Linked DNA regions of Homo sapiens. The protein of the gene in region 2 purifies or fractionates together with the protein of the main gene of each other region. This does not show direct contact. Each region holds a gene or a part of one and is shown on either strand. Other genes may lie near its edges.

Region 1 (3,749 bases), on a different chromosome or scaffold from region 2:
TTGTCTTTCTGCCTCTATCTAAAGCAGCATTTTCATTTGTTCCATCCTTTTTATCTATGTTCAACCCATATCCATTCATTCTATGTGTAACCTTTCTCATAAGTGACTTGCTTCTACATTTTAGTTTCTCTTGTTTTATAATAGAATTAAATATTCTATAGTAATATAGCAAAAGCATTACAGCAAACCCCAATGAGCAAACATGTATCATATCACGTTTATGATGTCCTCCTATTTATTGACCAAAACAAGTCAAATAGCCAAGCCCACAGTCAATGTAGAGGTGGACCACACAACGGAGCGGATAATAGAAGGTGTAGTTCATTGGGGATCACTACTATAACAATCTAATACTAACACATAGTTAGGAGACGGTTGATCCAGGGATCGAACTTTCCACAGTCTGTCTCTGGAGGCTACACACTAAACTACTATTCTGGAGGTGGTTGGGAATGGGTTCTTACTGAAGAACTTTTTTCAAACCTCACTTCCCAGGTCTGGGGCCTGTGATCCACCCCAGTGAATCAGAATATCTTGGGGGTAGGAAATTGTGGGGGGGATGGGGTGGTACTCCCATGAGCCTGAGACTGAAATAGCTCTGCAGAGGATTCCAGTGCACACTAGGGAATGAAGGGGGTTTCAAAGACAAGGAAGATATACTTTATGCACTCAAAAAGCTTTCATTTCCACAGAGAGCATTCTTAATTGTTGTTATTACATCACAGAGGCATCACCTTGGAATTTAAAAAAGAAGCGATTCCTTTCAATGTTTAAGAGACATCAGTGTTTCTCAAGCTTTCGTGTGTGTTATTACTGGAGGGCTTGTTAAAACCCACATGACTGGGTCCAATGTCTACGTTCTGATTCAGGAGGTGTGAAGTGGGGTCCACTATTTCTCACGTCTAAAAAGCTCTGGGACACACTTTGAGAACCAGAGTTAGAGAAGTAGGAGGCTTTAGTGGTAACAATCCTCCATTATTCAGTTTAATATTCTACTTACATGTAGCACATTTACTACCTACAAGTTTCCGGGCTGAGTGCAGCACTGTTTATGATAAGGATGGGATTTAGATCTTGATTACGCTCCAGCAGATTTATTAAGTGGATTTATTCTCTAAGGGTGCCTAAGCGTCATTAGACAGGTTCAGATAAAGCAGAGATCTCCTCCCTTAGAAGAGATTAGGGACAGCTTAATGAAGTAGGAGACCTTTCACCTGGGCCTTGAAAGATGCCTAGGACCTGGATCAGGGGAAATCGTGGACAATCAAATTATTCTTCCCGCTTTAGCACAGAGACAAAAAAATCACAAGCAACCACTAGGAAAGGTCTATGACATTCTTGCCTCTGCCTCTAGCATTAACAATTTGCATGCCAGCTGCTGGAATCTGAACGGGGAGGACTGTTCTCGTGTCAAGGGCTCAGTCTCAGACCCTCCTTGGGCAGGGGTGGAACTGGCTTCGCTTTCTCTTTGGGGCGCCCAGAGCGACTGCATTAGAGCCGGCCTGCTCGGCCGAAGCGGCGGTGGGCGCTGACTTGGCGAAGGGCGCAGCTGGGGCGCTTCGTTCCGGAGCAGAGCGCCGTGATCCCGTCGGGGCTGGGGTGGCAGCGCAGCTCTCCGCCTGTCCAGAGCGGGGCCGCACGCCGGGGCACCTTTCAGAACAAGCTCCAGATGTGGCCCCAGGTTGGGGGCCGGGTGGCAGCTGTACTACCCTGGCGGGCGAGGGGTCCAGAGCTCGTTTTCCCTATTCCGATCTGTAGGTTTAACGCCAGCACAGGGTGGCGCACCCTACCTCCTTCCACCTTCACGCACCAGCGCGGGAGGGGACGCGTGTGCACGCTCCTCCCCTAGGAGGGAGGGCGGCCCGAGAGCCTGCAGACTGCGCCTGCGCAGCCTCGCTCACACACCTCCCCGCCCCCCCGCACCTCCTTCCCCTTTCGCCCCGCCCCGTTCCCACTTCTGCTGCCGCTAGGGGTAGCGGCGGCGGCGGCGGCTGCGGCTCGGGAGCGCGGCTGCTTTGAGGGCTCGGGAACCTTACAGAGTGGGGACGTGGGGAGGCTAGAGGGTGAGAAAGCTGGCGGGAGAGTAGGGCGGCGCTGGAGGAGGGCGGTGCGTGGCTGACTCATCCTCTGGAAGATCAGACTGACAGAGACACACACTAGCCCGCCCCGCCCGCCCGCGCCGCTCCTCCTCAGCCGGGAGGCGCCCGCCCGCACCGACCGCCCGCCCTCTCCGGGCGCTGTCCGGGCCCGGCCGTCTCAGAGAAAGTTTTTCCCATCGGAGGGGCGGGAGCCGCCGCGGGCCTTTTGGAAAGGAAGTGGGGACGGAACAGGAGGCGAGAGCCGCGCGGGCCCGCGGAGTGCATGGTGCCCGGCGCCTCGGCTGCCTGGCAGGAGGACCTCGGGGCGGGGTCGAGCTGAGCCCAGCTCCTTCTCGCCTCAGCCGCGCCAGAAACCGCCTTGCCGGACGGCCGCGGGGGTCCCAGCTCCTCAGCTCGCCATGTCCCGGCTGCTGCCGCTGCTGAGGAGCCGGACCGCGCGCAGCCTGAGGCCGGGCCCGGCCGCCGCCGCCGCGCCCCGCCCGCCGTCCTGGTGCTGCTGCGGGCGGGGGCTGCTGGCGCTCGCGCCCCCCGGCGGCTTGCCGGGCGGCCCCAGGCGGCTGGGCACGCACCCCAAGAAGGAGCCCATGGAGGCGCTGAACACGGCGCAGGGCGCGCGCGACTTCATCTACAGCCTGCACTCCACGGAGAGGAGCTGCCTGCTCAAAGAGCTGCACCGCTTCGAGTCTATTGCCATTGCCCAAGGTAAGGGGGGCAGGTGGGGGGCGAGCCCGGGGGCCCCGACGCCCTCCTCTTCTCGCCAGCCCACCGGGAGCCCGCTGCGGCCCTGGATCTTGGACCCCCGCCGCCGCCCCCCTTCCGCCCCCCTCGCCTGTCTGGCCCCACGCCTGGGACGGCTGGGGGCGGGGAGACTTTCCGCCGCCCGAGTTTCCCCCAGGCAGGTAGGACGGGCGCGGGTCGTGCCAGGCAGCCGAGGCCAGCGCTAGCTACTTCCTCCCCAGCCTCCGAATCCGGAGCTTCGGCCTAAAATGCCAGTTAACGCTGTTGGGATTGAGTTTTGATTTGCCCCGTGCCTCCCCTCCCCAGCCCTCCTGTCCCTTAGCCCTTGCTGCTTTCTTGCGAGCGTGCACCCGTGCAGGTGGCATGCTGTGCCTGCTCCGAGAAAGTGCTGCAAACCCGCCTGGCAGGAAGAAACTTTTTGAACGGTTATCAAATGAAGACGTATGGGTGGGTAGCCAAAAGAAGGGGTGTAGCTTCGAAAGTCAGGGATGCTCATAGCTGCTTGTTTCCACACATGTCTGATTGCGTTAATTTCAGCAGCCAAAGGAAACATTTTCTCCAGAAATGGAAAGACAGATTCAAGTTAAACTCCAGTTTTGGTTTTTCCCAGAGGTTGAAAGAATGAAATAAATAAGGAGGTATATTTTTTGGAAATCTGTGGCTCTGTAGTAAAAGTCAGACTGATGCTCAAAAGTAATTGGGAATGATGAAAGCAAAACGATTTTTAAACTAGCATGTTAAAATAGGATATTTCTAAAAGGAGTCCAGAATGGGGTAGGGCAGAATTTGAGTCTAGGTGAAAAAGCTAAAAGTTCAGAAAATAAAAAGGATGAAAGGAGCAAACGACTAAAATGGATGTCTTAAAATATTTCTGCCACTTAAATACAGTTATGTAAACAAAACACATTGCTT
Region 2 (3,749 bases):
AGAGGCCATTAGCAAGACAATAGGCTGCCCATGACTCTGGGGCCTGCCCCAGTTCAGTCAGCTGGGCCCAGAGCATGAAGGTCATGCGGTGTATAACATGGCTTGCTTTCAAGATGCTTGTTTCAGCAAAGGCTGTGAACAAGGCTTAAAGGGGGCTGTTGGCACAGCAGGCATCAAGGAGAAAGATATTCTCTTCCGTATCCCCCCAGCCTACTCCCTGGCTTTGGCACAGAGCAGGTGTTGACAGACCATTGTTGACAGTGTCCATGGAGGAGACAAATGGGGAAATGGCAGAAGTGTTGAGGCCCAGTGCACCTGTGATGGAAGCAGTGCTCAGCAGGGTAACTACAGGAAGCAGAAAACCTGGTATGAGCATTCAACACTGAGTGCCTACTGGCTTCACTGTGTGCTGGGTCCTATGCATGGTGGGAAATATATAAGATGTGGCTACTGTCCCCGAGGAAGACATGGCATGTATAGGTGGAAAATTTGTAAGTGTTCTACTTTTTAATTACTTTAAAAATAAATATAGGTACTGGTAACTCCCCCTGACACAGGTATTGACTGGTCAGTGGTCATTTTCTCTTGCCCATTGAGCATGTTCCCTAGCTGCTCACTTATTTTAAGGCTACCTCTTCTAGTCCATCACACTCACCCTCAGGAGTCAGAAAGGAAGAGCAAGAGTTTAGATTGTATAAGTTTATATAAAACTCTTTTTGGCTCATCTATATCACTACTTTCCTCATTGAATGTTGATGGAAGTGTCATTTCATGATGTTTGCAAATAATGTTGAGGAATGTGGAAAGAGCATATGCCTTAAAGTTTGGAAAAATAAAAAAATTTTAATAGTGAAAATATGAGTTTAGAAAATATTTATAGTAAAACATATTCAATAAAGAAATCTTGGAAAATATAGAAAAGTGGGAAGAAGGGTCATCAATGCCCCAAACCAAGCATAATTGGCATTTTGTTATATTTCCTTTTAGATTTAGTTTTCATCCTAAACTTTGACTATTAGTGTTTCATTTGCTTTAAATAGTTATATAGTAAACATGAATTTGTAACCTGCTTTTTGATGTAGCATTATTCATAATTTTAAAAACATCATTTGTAATGACTGTAATTTTACAACCATGTAGTACTCTTTATTTTTTATTTAATTTTTTTTTTAATATCAGAAAACATTTACAGTATGTACCACTCTTTACTTAATCCTTCCTCTGAGTTTAGAATTTTGGGGTGTTTCCAATTTTCCAGAATATTAAATAATGTTGCAATATACATATTTGCATAAAGGTTTCTCTCATATTCTTATTTACTTCCCTAGTACAGATTCTTGGAAATGGATTTGTTTGATCAAAGGGCAGAAGTATTTCTGAAGTTTCTGATGCATATTACTTAAAAAACATACTAAATGGAAGGGTGGTATACTTGCATGTGCAGTGAGGACTGCAAATTTTTTACAAATAAACACCAAATGCAGAAAGCACCATCATTTCAATATTGCCCTCAAGTCTACACAGTTGATATAATATTTAGATAGATGGCCATGTCTTGATAATGGAAAACATTTTGTCCTTATTCAAATGATTCCAGGCTATAGGAAAAAAGGAAAAACAAAGTGATTAAAGTTATAAACTTGGCTTGATTAGTAATCCGTAATCCAGATAGCAACTTAAACTTATATTTCATATTCAAAATATGATAGAACAGAAAAAACATCTCTTAGAAATTGCTAGGAAAGGTATTACACATTCTGTTGTTAAACAAAATACAAGCCATCTAAATTCATAATTTTTCTTCACTCTGGACTTCTTGATAGCAGTTTCAACCATAACTAAATTAACATTAGTATTTTAGCAGACGAAGTAGAAGTAGTTTCAATGGGATAAATACATATTTCCCTTCTTCTTCAAAAGCACTCCTATGCACTCGAGATAAAGGTTCATTAGTTGAATGTAGCAGCATTCAGAAGAGAAGTTATTTCAATGAGATAAGGTTCTGAGCCTTTGCTTAACTTATGAACAGGGAAATTCTTGATAAATGGTAAAATTTCATCATGCTTTGAGTTATCTCTATGTAGAACACTAAAACTTTGCTCATTCAAAACACTTATGAAGCCTTACCATACAACAAGAAATGCAGATTTTACAATTACTGAGTTGATTCAACCCTTATAGATAAGCCAAGACACATTGGGATATCAGAAAAAATTGAGATATTAGAGCTTGAATAAAGATGAGGGCAATAGAAATGGGGGGAAAGTGATGGAATTCTAGAGTCTTTTCAAAAAGCCTCATTGAATCCTGGGAAGTGGGGGAAATATGGATGAGCTACAGGTGCCCATGAGAATCTGTTACCTGGAAGATCACTGAATAGCTTCCACACAGTATCTTGGATAGTTGCATGACTACTCTGATGAGGCAGATGATCACTTGAAGCCCACTGAGGGTTATGAGAATGGAAAATAAAATGATGTTCCACTCCACAACATGTGCAGGTTCCAGGCACTGAATCCATATGCTAGAATCTGTAAGGAAACTGAGAGAGACCCATGGCCAAATCTACATACTGGGTCCAAGGAAGAAAGCTACAAGCATTTGTATGTTTGAGAAATTACTGTATAACTAAAATATATAGTTATTAGATATGAATTAATACATTTTAAAAACCATTCAGATACACATATTGGACATATCTTATGCATAGCACTGAGCTAGATACTTAGTGTGTTATAAATGTTGTGCTTGCCTTATCACCCCCATGGCCTCTTTGTTTTTCTTTCTCCCTCTTCCATTTCTTTCCTACTTCCTTCTTTTTTACTCTTTCCCCACCTTTATTTATTTTCTACTTTCTAATGCTCCAGGAAATAGAGGCACTCTGAGAATTTCTTTATATTGTTAATGGCTCTTGTCTCCAATGGGAAAGAGCACAGAATATGAAATCAGAATTCCTGGATTTGGGTCTGCAGGATGTTGAGCAAAGAACTTTACCCCTCTGGCCTCCAGACTTTTTTTTTTTTTTTTGAGACGGAGTCTTGCTCTGTCGCCCAGGCTGGAGTGCAGTGGCGCATCTTCGCTCACTGCAAGCTCCGCCTCCCTGGTTCACGCCATTCTCCTGCCTCAGCCTCCCAAGTAGCTACAGGCACCCGCCACCACGCCCGGCTAATTTTTTGTATTTTTTTAGTAGAGACGGGGTTTCACCGTGTGAGCCAGGATGGTCTCGATCTCCTGACCTCATGATCTGCCTGCCTCACCCTCCCAAAGTGCTGGGATTACAGGCATGAGCCACCGCGCCTGGCCCTCCAGACTCTTATCTTGATAATGGGGTTAAAATATCTAACCCCAGAGTTATTGTGAATATTTGGTAAGAATGTGTATACAAACAGTTTGGAACCTGTAAAGTACAATACAGATGTGGCTTTCTGTTAAATTTCCCTAAACCTATCTCATACCCCCATTTACCCCTATCTCCATCTCAGCTGCCAGGGAAATGAGTCCCTCCAGATCCCTCCTCTAGACTGTTCCTAGTACATGCTCTGCACAGATCATCTAGCAATTTAAAACAAGATGACTTGCAATGTTGCAGGAAGTCGGGGACCCCAAATGGTGGGACTGGCTGGAGCCGCGGCAGAGAAACATGAATTGTGAAGATTTCATGGACATTTATCAGTTCCCAAATAATACTTTTATAATTTCTTATGCCTGTTTTTACTCTAATCTCTTAATCCTGTTATCTTCATAAGTTG

Evidence for each region. Proteins that work in one complex are often made in the same cells at the same time.
Region 1: the proteins of TM4SF18 (region 2) and TMEM65 purify together in Homo sapiens (affinity purification with mass spectrometry; 2 studies listed by BioGRID and IntAct, with this or other methods). This does not show direct contact.

Annotation. Positions count from the first base shown.
Region 1 is NC_000008.11:124,370,906-124,374,654, reverse strand, and holds the start of TMEM65 (transmembrane protein 65), read left to right. Parts: upstream 1-1,953; 5' UTR 1,954-2,497; coding exon 2,498-2,801; intron 2,802-3,749. UniProt on the Homo sapiens protein: Essential for maintaining proper cardiac intercalated disk (ICD) structure and function as well as cardiac conduction velocity in the heart.
Region 2 is NC_000003.12:149,319,895-149,323,643, forward strand, and holds part of TM4SF18 (transmembrane 4 L6 family member 18), read right to left. Parts: intron 2,543-3,749; coding exon 2,362-2,542; intron 1,599-2,361; coding exon 1,584-1,598; 3' UTR 1-1,583.